2 linked regions of the Homo sapiens genome follow. The protein of the gene in region 2 interacts with the protein of the main gene of each other region in a biochemical or structural test. Each region holds a gene or a part of one and is shown on either strand. Other genes may lie near its edges. The genes, in order: CSTF2 and SYMPK.

The links.
Region 1: the proteins of SYMPK (region 2) and CSTF2 form a complex in vitro, tested with the Homo sapiens proteins (one study listed by BioGRID).

The regions. Positions count from the first base shown.
Region 1 is NC_000023.11:100,830,334-100,834,149, reverse strand, and holds part of CSTF2 (cleavage stimulation factor subunit 2), read right to left. Parts: intron 3,343-3,816; coding exon of another isoform or gene 3,283-3,342; intron 3,101-3,282; coding exon of another isoform or gene 2,928-3,100; exon of another isoform or gene 2,642-2,927; intron 2,636-2,641; coding exon 2,494-2,635; intron 1,417-2,493; coding exon 1,241-1,416; intron 971-1,240; coding exon 678-970; intron 1-677. UniProt on the Homo sapiens protein: One of the multiple factors required for polyadenylation and 3'-end cleavage of mammalian pre-mRNAs. This subunit is directly involved in the binding to pre-mRNAs.
Region 2 is NC_000019.10:45,856,418-45,860,233, reverse strand, and holds part of SYMPK (symplekin), read left to right. Parts: intron 1-3,816. UniProt on the Homo sapiens protein: Scaffold protein that functions as a component of a multimolecular complex involved in histone mRNA 3'-end processing. Specific component of the tight junction (TJ) plaque, but might not be an exclusively junctional component. May have a house-keeping rule.

The sequences.
Region 1 (3,816 bases), on a different chromosome or scaffold from region 2:
CCACCTCTCCACAACCAAGTCGAGATGAAGAGGGAGCATGTACACACAGGCAGAGAGATCCAAATAAAAGAGAGGAGACAAGACTTCGGTTCCACACCTTTTAAGGTGATTATTAATAAACTGCCTTTCACATTCCACTGTTCACTTAGGCTATGTGATGACAATAAATTAACACAGGTCTCTCTAAACCTAAGATTATCTAAATGGCCACTAACAGCTCTTCATATACTCTAACCCAGTGGTTCCCAGTCAGGGTTCACATTAGAATCATTTGGGGGAAGTTTTTCAAACTATCCATGCTCAGATCCTACTAATAAGAGATTCTGAGTTATACCTCGGATGAGATCCGGGCAAGTATATCTTGGAAAAAACCGTGTACATGATGTTGGTTTGTACCCCAATCAAGACTACTTTCTAACCCCTAAATTTTCAGGGGCTCTGCTCCAAATGAATAGCTATTTATTGTGGGATAAGGTTGTTTTTTTTTGAACTACAATCCTGATAGCCAGAAAATCACCACCCTAAGGGACAGAGAAGCTACAGGGAGATCCAAGTCTTCCCTTTCTAACAAGCTAAGAAACAGCCCAAGTCAGAAGGCAGTAATAATTAGGCTCAATAATCAATTCCTGAATAGATCAAGATTTCACTTGGATGCCAGAAGTCAGTGTTACACATACCTGTCTGGATCCCTGGGGGACAACCGCCCCCATGTTAATTGGACTGGGACCCTGCATTCCACTAGGTATAGGTCCTCTGGGGCCAGGCACTGGGCCTCTGGTATCCATGCCTCTGGCCTCCATCCCTCGGACTTCCATTGCACGGGCCTCCATCGCTCGGGCCTCCATTGCACGAGCTTCCATCGCACGGGCCTCCATTGCACGGGCCTCTAATCCTCTGGCATCTAACCCTCTTGCCTCCATGGCTCGGGCCTCCATCCCTCGTGCATCTATTCCTCGGGGATCCCTTCCACCTATAAAGAAAAATGTAACAAAACCATTATGTAGCTACTTGCATGTACTGCAAGAATGATGAACAATCCAAGAAAGATAGAAATCTCTTCTAGTCACATTTGTCCCCTCAGCTATTAACATATGAGACTATTGTCTCCTCCCCAGTTTCTCAGATTTGTGGATAAACCTTAAAGATGCTTGCAAACCTACTGTTCCAGCATTCTTTATCCCAGATTAGAGCCTAAGACAGTTGAGTTCATTATGGCATTTGCAATGTGATCTCCCCTTACCTCTGCCATCCAAGGGTGGACCCCTCTGATCTAGCATGGGTCCTCTTGGTTCTGCCATTAGAGGTCTGGGCTCGGGTAATGGCCCTCCCCTCAGTTCATGTGGGGGTGGTCCTCGGCTCTCATGGCCAGGGACATGGTGCATGGGTGGACCCTGATGAGGTGGTCCCAAGTAACCTCTGGAGATGGAGAAAAACGTTGTATTTTAAAATAGAACAAAACAACAACAAAGTACCAACCAGATCAGTAAGTAAACATCCAACAAAGAGCTGATGTAGTCTATGAATACTAACAAGAAAATAACACCAAATAGATGGAAGAAAAGCTACAGAGATATAAATCCATGTATTCTAGAATTTCGTTATTTGGTTCATAATTAGGGAGGAATCAACGAATATTCATTATATGTATGAGTTTGCAGAACAATGCATAAGAACATGAGCTCTGGATTCAGACTGTATGGGTTCAAATCTAGGCTCTATCACTTATTAGCTGTGTGATATTGGACACATTATTTAACTTTTCCACACATCAGTTTCACGTGTAAAATGGGACTAATAATGGTATCCATCTCACAGGATCTTGTGGATTTAATAAGATGATCTAAGTAAAGTACTCAGAGCAGAGTCAGAGGCATGATCCCCATTAATGTCAATTATTATTACTATCATTATTTTATTTATTTATTTACTTTTGAAATGGAGTTTCACTCTTGTTGCCCAGGCTGGAGTGCAGTGGCATGACCTCGGCTCACTGCAACCTCCACCTCCTGGGTTCAAGCGATTCTCCTGCCTCAGCCTCCCCAGTAGCTGTAATTATAGGCGCCCGCCACCACGCCCGGCTAATTTTTCTATTTTTAGTAGAGATGGGATTTCACCATGTAGGCCAGGCAGGTCTCGAACTCCTGACCTCAAGTGATCCACCCACCTTGGCCTCCCAAAGTACTGGGATTATAGGCGTCAGCCACTGCACCCGGCCTATTATTGCTATTATTAATATTTCCACTACTATAAATTTCCCTGTTCAAGTATGTATACTAAAATTTCCAATTTCTAAAAATATAATAGCTCAAAATGACATACTCAAGTACATAGTTCTGCCTTAGGAGAAGTGCTTACCCTTGGACAGTGGCCATGAATATTGATCTACCTTTTGAAGTAGGCAAACAGGTACAACTGGTACAGAAAGATTTTGTTCTCAGGGAAGAAGGGACAATTCTGATTTCTTCAACTGTTTCCTTCTATGTTAGTGCTTACCTAGGCTCTACCTCTCCAGTTACAGAAAGTAAAGTGCCTCCCCGTGGATCATTCGGAGCATCTCCTAACAAGCCTCGAGGGGTTGGGACATTCGCAGGCAAGGATCCCCGCTGCATAGCTGCTCTGGGGTCTTGCATCGGCACTGACAGGGAAACAAACGGGGAGTTACTGCTGTGAAAGACACATAAGCAAACAAGAAATGACTCTATATACCACTGACAACATAATTCAGACACCTTAGAGTGGGTGAAACCTCACCACAGCAGAATCCTCTTGCAGCTCAAGAACAGAAGCAGGGTGTAGGCAGAATCTGTGCCATGTCAGAGGTATGGATGGAATTATATAAAGAGCAAACTGGGGAGCAACCTGCCAAGGACTAGCACTGCGACCTGGAGAAACTTATGCTCCTGGTTTTCCTTCTAATCAATCTTAGTTCAAGGACCAGAGTCACAAAACAGAGGTAGAGTCTTGGCATATGTGAACACTGCCATGGCTCTGCAAGAACCCGCTGTCTCCTTACAGACTGCTATTCCATCCAAGCCTCCTGACACCAGTAGGGAGGGAGTACAGCCTCGGACAGATGCCCATATCATCCATGTTCTCTGCCCTGTGTGAAGAGGTCAATCTTAGGCTTGTGGCCTCAACAGGAAAAAATTAAAAAAACAAAAACCCAAAAACACTACCCTTTTGGGTTCTGAACGCGAGGATGACTGCCACGCAGCTCTTTTCCTCTCAACGTCCCACCCTGAACACCACAAGCAAAAGGAAACCCACAGATACAATGGGTACCTTGAACTCGCTCAATTGATGCAGGCCCGGCGGGTCCCACGGGCGAGTGCTGTAGGGTTCCTAGGTAAGCAGTAAGTTCAAAAGGAGAAAGAGCAGACACTTAAAATAGCTTGCATACACACGCAGAAACACACACACATGGAGATTGAGATTTACATATATAAGTTAAAAAGCCAAGAGTTCATCGGCTTGCTCCAGGCTACAAAATCTCCCTAAACTACACTAGCTCCTTTGGGTCTCTGAAATAGTTCCATTTTGACCAGATAGCTTTTGAAAGGGAATCCCATGGGGGCACTGGTTTGATCTAGGTGGGAATAACCTGACATTTTCGATTTTCACCTCTGCTACTAGTTTTCCGTTAGGTCTCCTTATGAAATCATTAGGAAAAAAATATATAAAAAGGATAGTTTTGAATCTTCTAGTTATGCAAAGAACATAAATGTAGTTTCAGAAGCAAAACATAAAAGAAACTGCACTGAATCTGGAAGGCAAGATTCATTCTGAAACGGCCATAACTGAAGTACGGCAATTCTA
Region 2 (3,816 bases):
TCCACCCGCCTTGGCCTCCCAAAGTGCTGGCATTATAGGCTTGAGCCACCGTGCCCGGCCGTGTTCAATATATATTAACTGATTATTTTTTCTTTTTTTTTTTTGGAAACAGGTTCATCAGGTTCATGCTCTGTTGCCCAGGTTGGACTACGGTGGCCCAATCATACTTCACTACAACCAGGCTCAAACAATCCTCCCACCTTAGCCTCCAGAGTAGCTGGGACTAAAGGTTCATGGCACCATGCCTGGCTAATTTTTTTTTTTTTTTTTTTTTTTTTTTAGATGGAGTCTTACCGTGTCTCCCAGGCTGGAGAGCAGTGGCATGATATCGATGCCCAGCTAATTGTGCATATGTCTAGAGATGGTGTGTCGCTGTGTTGCCCAGGCTGGTTTCAAACTCCTGGCCTCAAGTACTCTTCCTGCTTCAGCCTCCCAAAATGTTGGGATTATAGGCATGAACCCCTGCACCTGGCCTTCTTTTTTAGTTTTTAGGCCTAGGCTAGTCCTGAACTCCTGGCCTCAAGCCATCCTCCCACCTAGACCTACCAAAATGCTGGGTTTACAATTGTGAGCCACTATACCCGTCCTATTTTTGTTTTCTTTCCTTTCTTTGTTTTTGTTTTGTTTTATTTTTGAGACAGAGTCTTGCTCTGTCATCCAGGCTGGAGTGCAGTGGCGCAATCTCGGCTCGCTGCAACGTCTGCCTCCCAGGCTCAGGTAATTCTCATGCCTCAGCCTCCCAAGTAGCTGGGATTACAGGCATCCATCTCCATGCCCAAGTAATTTTTTTGTATTTTTAGCAGAGACTGGGTTTTGCCATGTTGGCCAGGCTGGTCTTGAACTCCTGGCCTCAAGTGATCTGTCCACTTTGGCCTCCCAAAGTGCTGGGATTACAGGAGTGAGCCACCACACCATGCCCTTTTTTTTTTTTTTTTTTAAAGACTTGTCAAGTGCAGTAGTGAGAAAGGGGGAAAAAGTAGAACAAGTATAGCTATTAGGATTCAAGAGTGAAAGGGCAGGAATACTGAACCCAGTGATTGGGGAGGCCGTTTGGCAGTAGTGTTCACTCATTCAGCAGATGTTTATTGAGCTCCTGCTAGGTGCCAAGCACTCTTCCGTGCTGGGAATATAAAAAGTGAAGGAACAAAATCCCTGTTCTAGGCCGGGGGCGATGGCTGAGACTTGTGATCCCAAGCACTTTGGGAGGCCAAGGAGGGTGGATTGCTTGAGTGCAGGAGTTCAAGACCAGCCTGGGCAACATGGCGAAACTCTGCTTCTACCAAAAAATGATTTCAAATAAATAAATCACTGTCCTCGTGGAACTTATAAATATGTAGTGTGTGATGATGATAAATGCTATGGAGAAAAAGCAACACAGATGGGGATCGAGAGGAAGTTAAAATTTGAAATATGGTCGTCGGCCGGGCGCGGTGGCTCATGCCTGTAATCCCAGCACTTTGGGAGGCCAAGGCGGGCGAATCACCTGAGGTCGGGAGTTCGAGATCAGCCTGACCAACATGGAGAAACCCCGTCTCTACTAAAAATACAAAATTAGCCAGGCGTGGTGGCACATGCCTGTAATCCCAGCTACTAGGGAGGCTGAGGCAGGAGAATCGCTTGAACTTGGGAGGCAGAGGTTGCTGTGAGCTGAGATCACGCCATTGCACTCCAGCCTGGGCAATAAGAGGGAAACTCCGTCTCAAAAAAAAAAGAAACATAGTCGTCAGGGAAGACCTTACTGCAGAGACATGTGAGTGGAGACCTGAAGGAAATGAAGAGGGAAGGAGTTGTGCTGATATCTAGGAGGAGGAATATTCCAGGCAGACGGAAGAGAGGCACAAAGTCTTTGAGGAAGGGGCATGTTGGGCATGTTCACAGGACAGCGAGGAGGCCAGAGTGGGTGGAGCAAAGAGCCCAGGGGGAGAGGCAGTCAGAGGAAGAACAGGCCAGATGCCATAAAATCTTGTAGGCCTTGATGGGGACATTGGCCCTGACCCTGAGCAAGATAGGGGGTGACAGGCAGCAGGGAAACTAGGGAGGAGGCTGTGGCTCGTCATTCATTGAGGAGACCCCTATCATGTGATACTACTGTGAATAGCTATTGGGTAGTTCCTTTTAAAAAACGTGTCATTTTCGGCTGGGCGCTGTGGCTCACACCTGTAATCCCAGCAATTTGGGAGGCCAAGGTGGGCAGATCACCTGAGGTCAGGAGTTCGAGACCAGCCTGACCAACATGGTAAAACTTCGTCTCTACTAAAAATACAAAAATTAGCTGGATGTGGTGGCACATACCTGTAATCCCAGCTACTTGGGAGATGAGGCAGGAGAATTGCTTGAACCTGGGAGGGTGGAGGTTGCGGTGAGCTGAGATTGTGCCATTACACTCCAGCCTGGGAAACAAGAGTGAAATTCCATCTAAAAAAAAAAAAAAAAAAGTATTTTCGGCTGGTTGCGGTGGCTCACGCCTGTAATCCCAGCACTTTGGGAGGCCAAGGCGGGCGGATCACGAGGTCAGGAGATCGAGACCATCCTGGCTAACATGGTGAAACCCCGTCTCTACTAAAAATACAAAAAATTAGCCGGGCGTGGTGGCAGGCGCCTGTAGTCCCAGCTACTGGGGAGGCTGAGGCAGGAGAATGGTGTGAACCCAGGAGGCGGAGCTTGCAGTGAGCCACGATCACGCCACTGCACTCCAGCCTGGGCGACAGTGCAAGACTCCATCTCAAAAAAAGAAAAAAGTATCATTTTCACCGTCCTCAGATTATTGTTTTTTTGGCATGTTTGTTTGTTTAGTGTGTGTTTTTTTTTTTTTTTTTTTTTTTTTGAGACAGAGTCTCACTCTGTCGCCCAGGCTCGAGTACAGTGTTGTGATCTCAGCTCACTGCAAGTTCCGCTTCCCGGGTTCATGCCATTCTCCTGCCTCAGCCTCCCGAGTAGCTGGGAATACAGGCGCCCGCCACCATGCCCGGCATATTTTTTTGTATTTTTAGAAGAGACGGGGTTTCACCTTGTTAGCCAGGATGGTCTCGATCTCCTGACCTCCGTGATCCGTCCGCCTTGGCCTCCCAAAGTGCTGGGATTACACGTGTGAGCCACCGCACCCAGCCTTGTTTTGTTTTTAAGACAGTCTCATTCTCGTCCAGGCTGGAGTGCAGTGGCGTGATCTCAGCTCACTGCAGCCTCTGCCTCCCAGGTTCAAGTGATTCTCCCACCTCAGCCTCCCAAGTAGGTGGGATTATAGGTATGCGCCACCATGCCTGTCTAATTTGTATGTTTTTAGTAGGGAACAGTGTTTCTCCATGTTGGCCAGTCTGGTCTCGAACTCCTGACCTCAGGTGTTCTGCCTACCTCAGCCTCCCAAGGTGCTGGGATTACAGATGTGAGCCACTGCACCTGGCCTGTTTGTTTCTGAGACAGGGTGTTGCTCTGTCCGCAGGCTGGAATGCAGTGGTAGGGATCACAGCTCACTGCATCCTCCACCTCCTGAGCTCAATTGATCCTCCCACCTTAGCCTCCCAAAATCCTGGGATTACAGGCGTGAGCTGGCCAAATTATTATTAATTATCATAATTGTTGTTAGCAGTTTATGCAGTAGCCTTCAGATCTTTTCCCATGTACATAAAAATAATAGTATACTTAGCCAATGTTTACTGTATATACTAACTCATTTAATCCTCAAAATAGTCTTGGGAGGTAAGCCCTGTTACTATCCCTGTTTCCTAGAAGAGGAAACTGAGAGCCAGAGAAGTTAAATGTCTTGCCTCAGGTCATTCTGCGTATACATAAACACATACTTGACAAAAATGGCTTGAACTG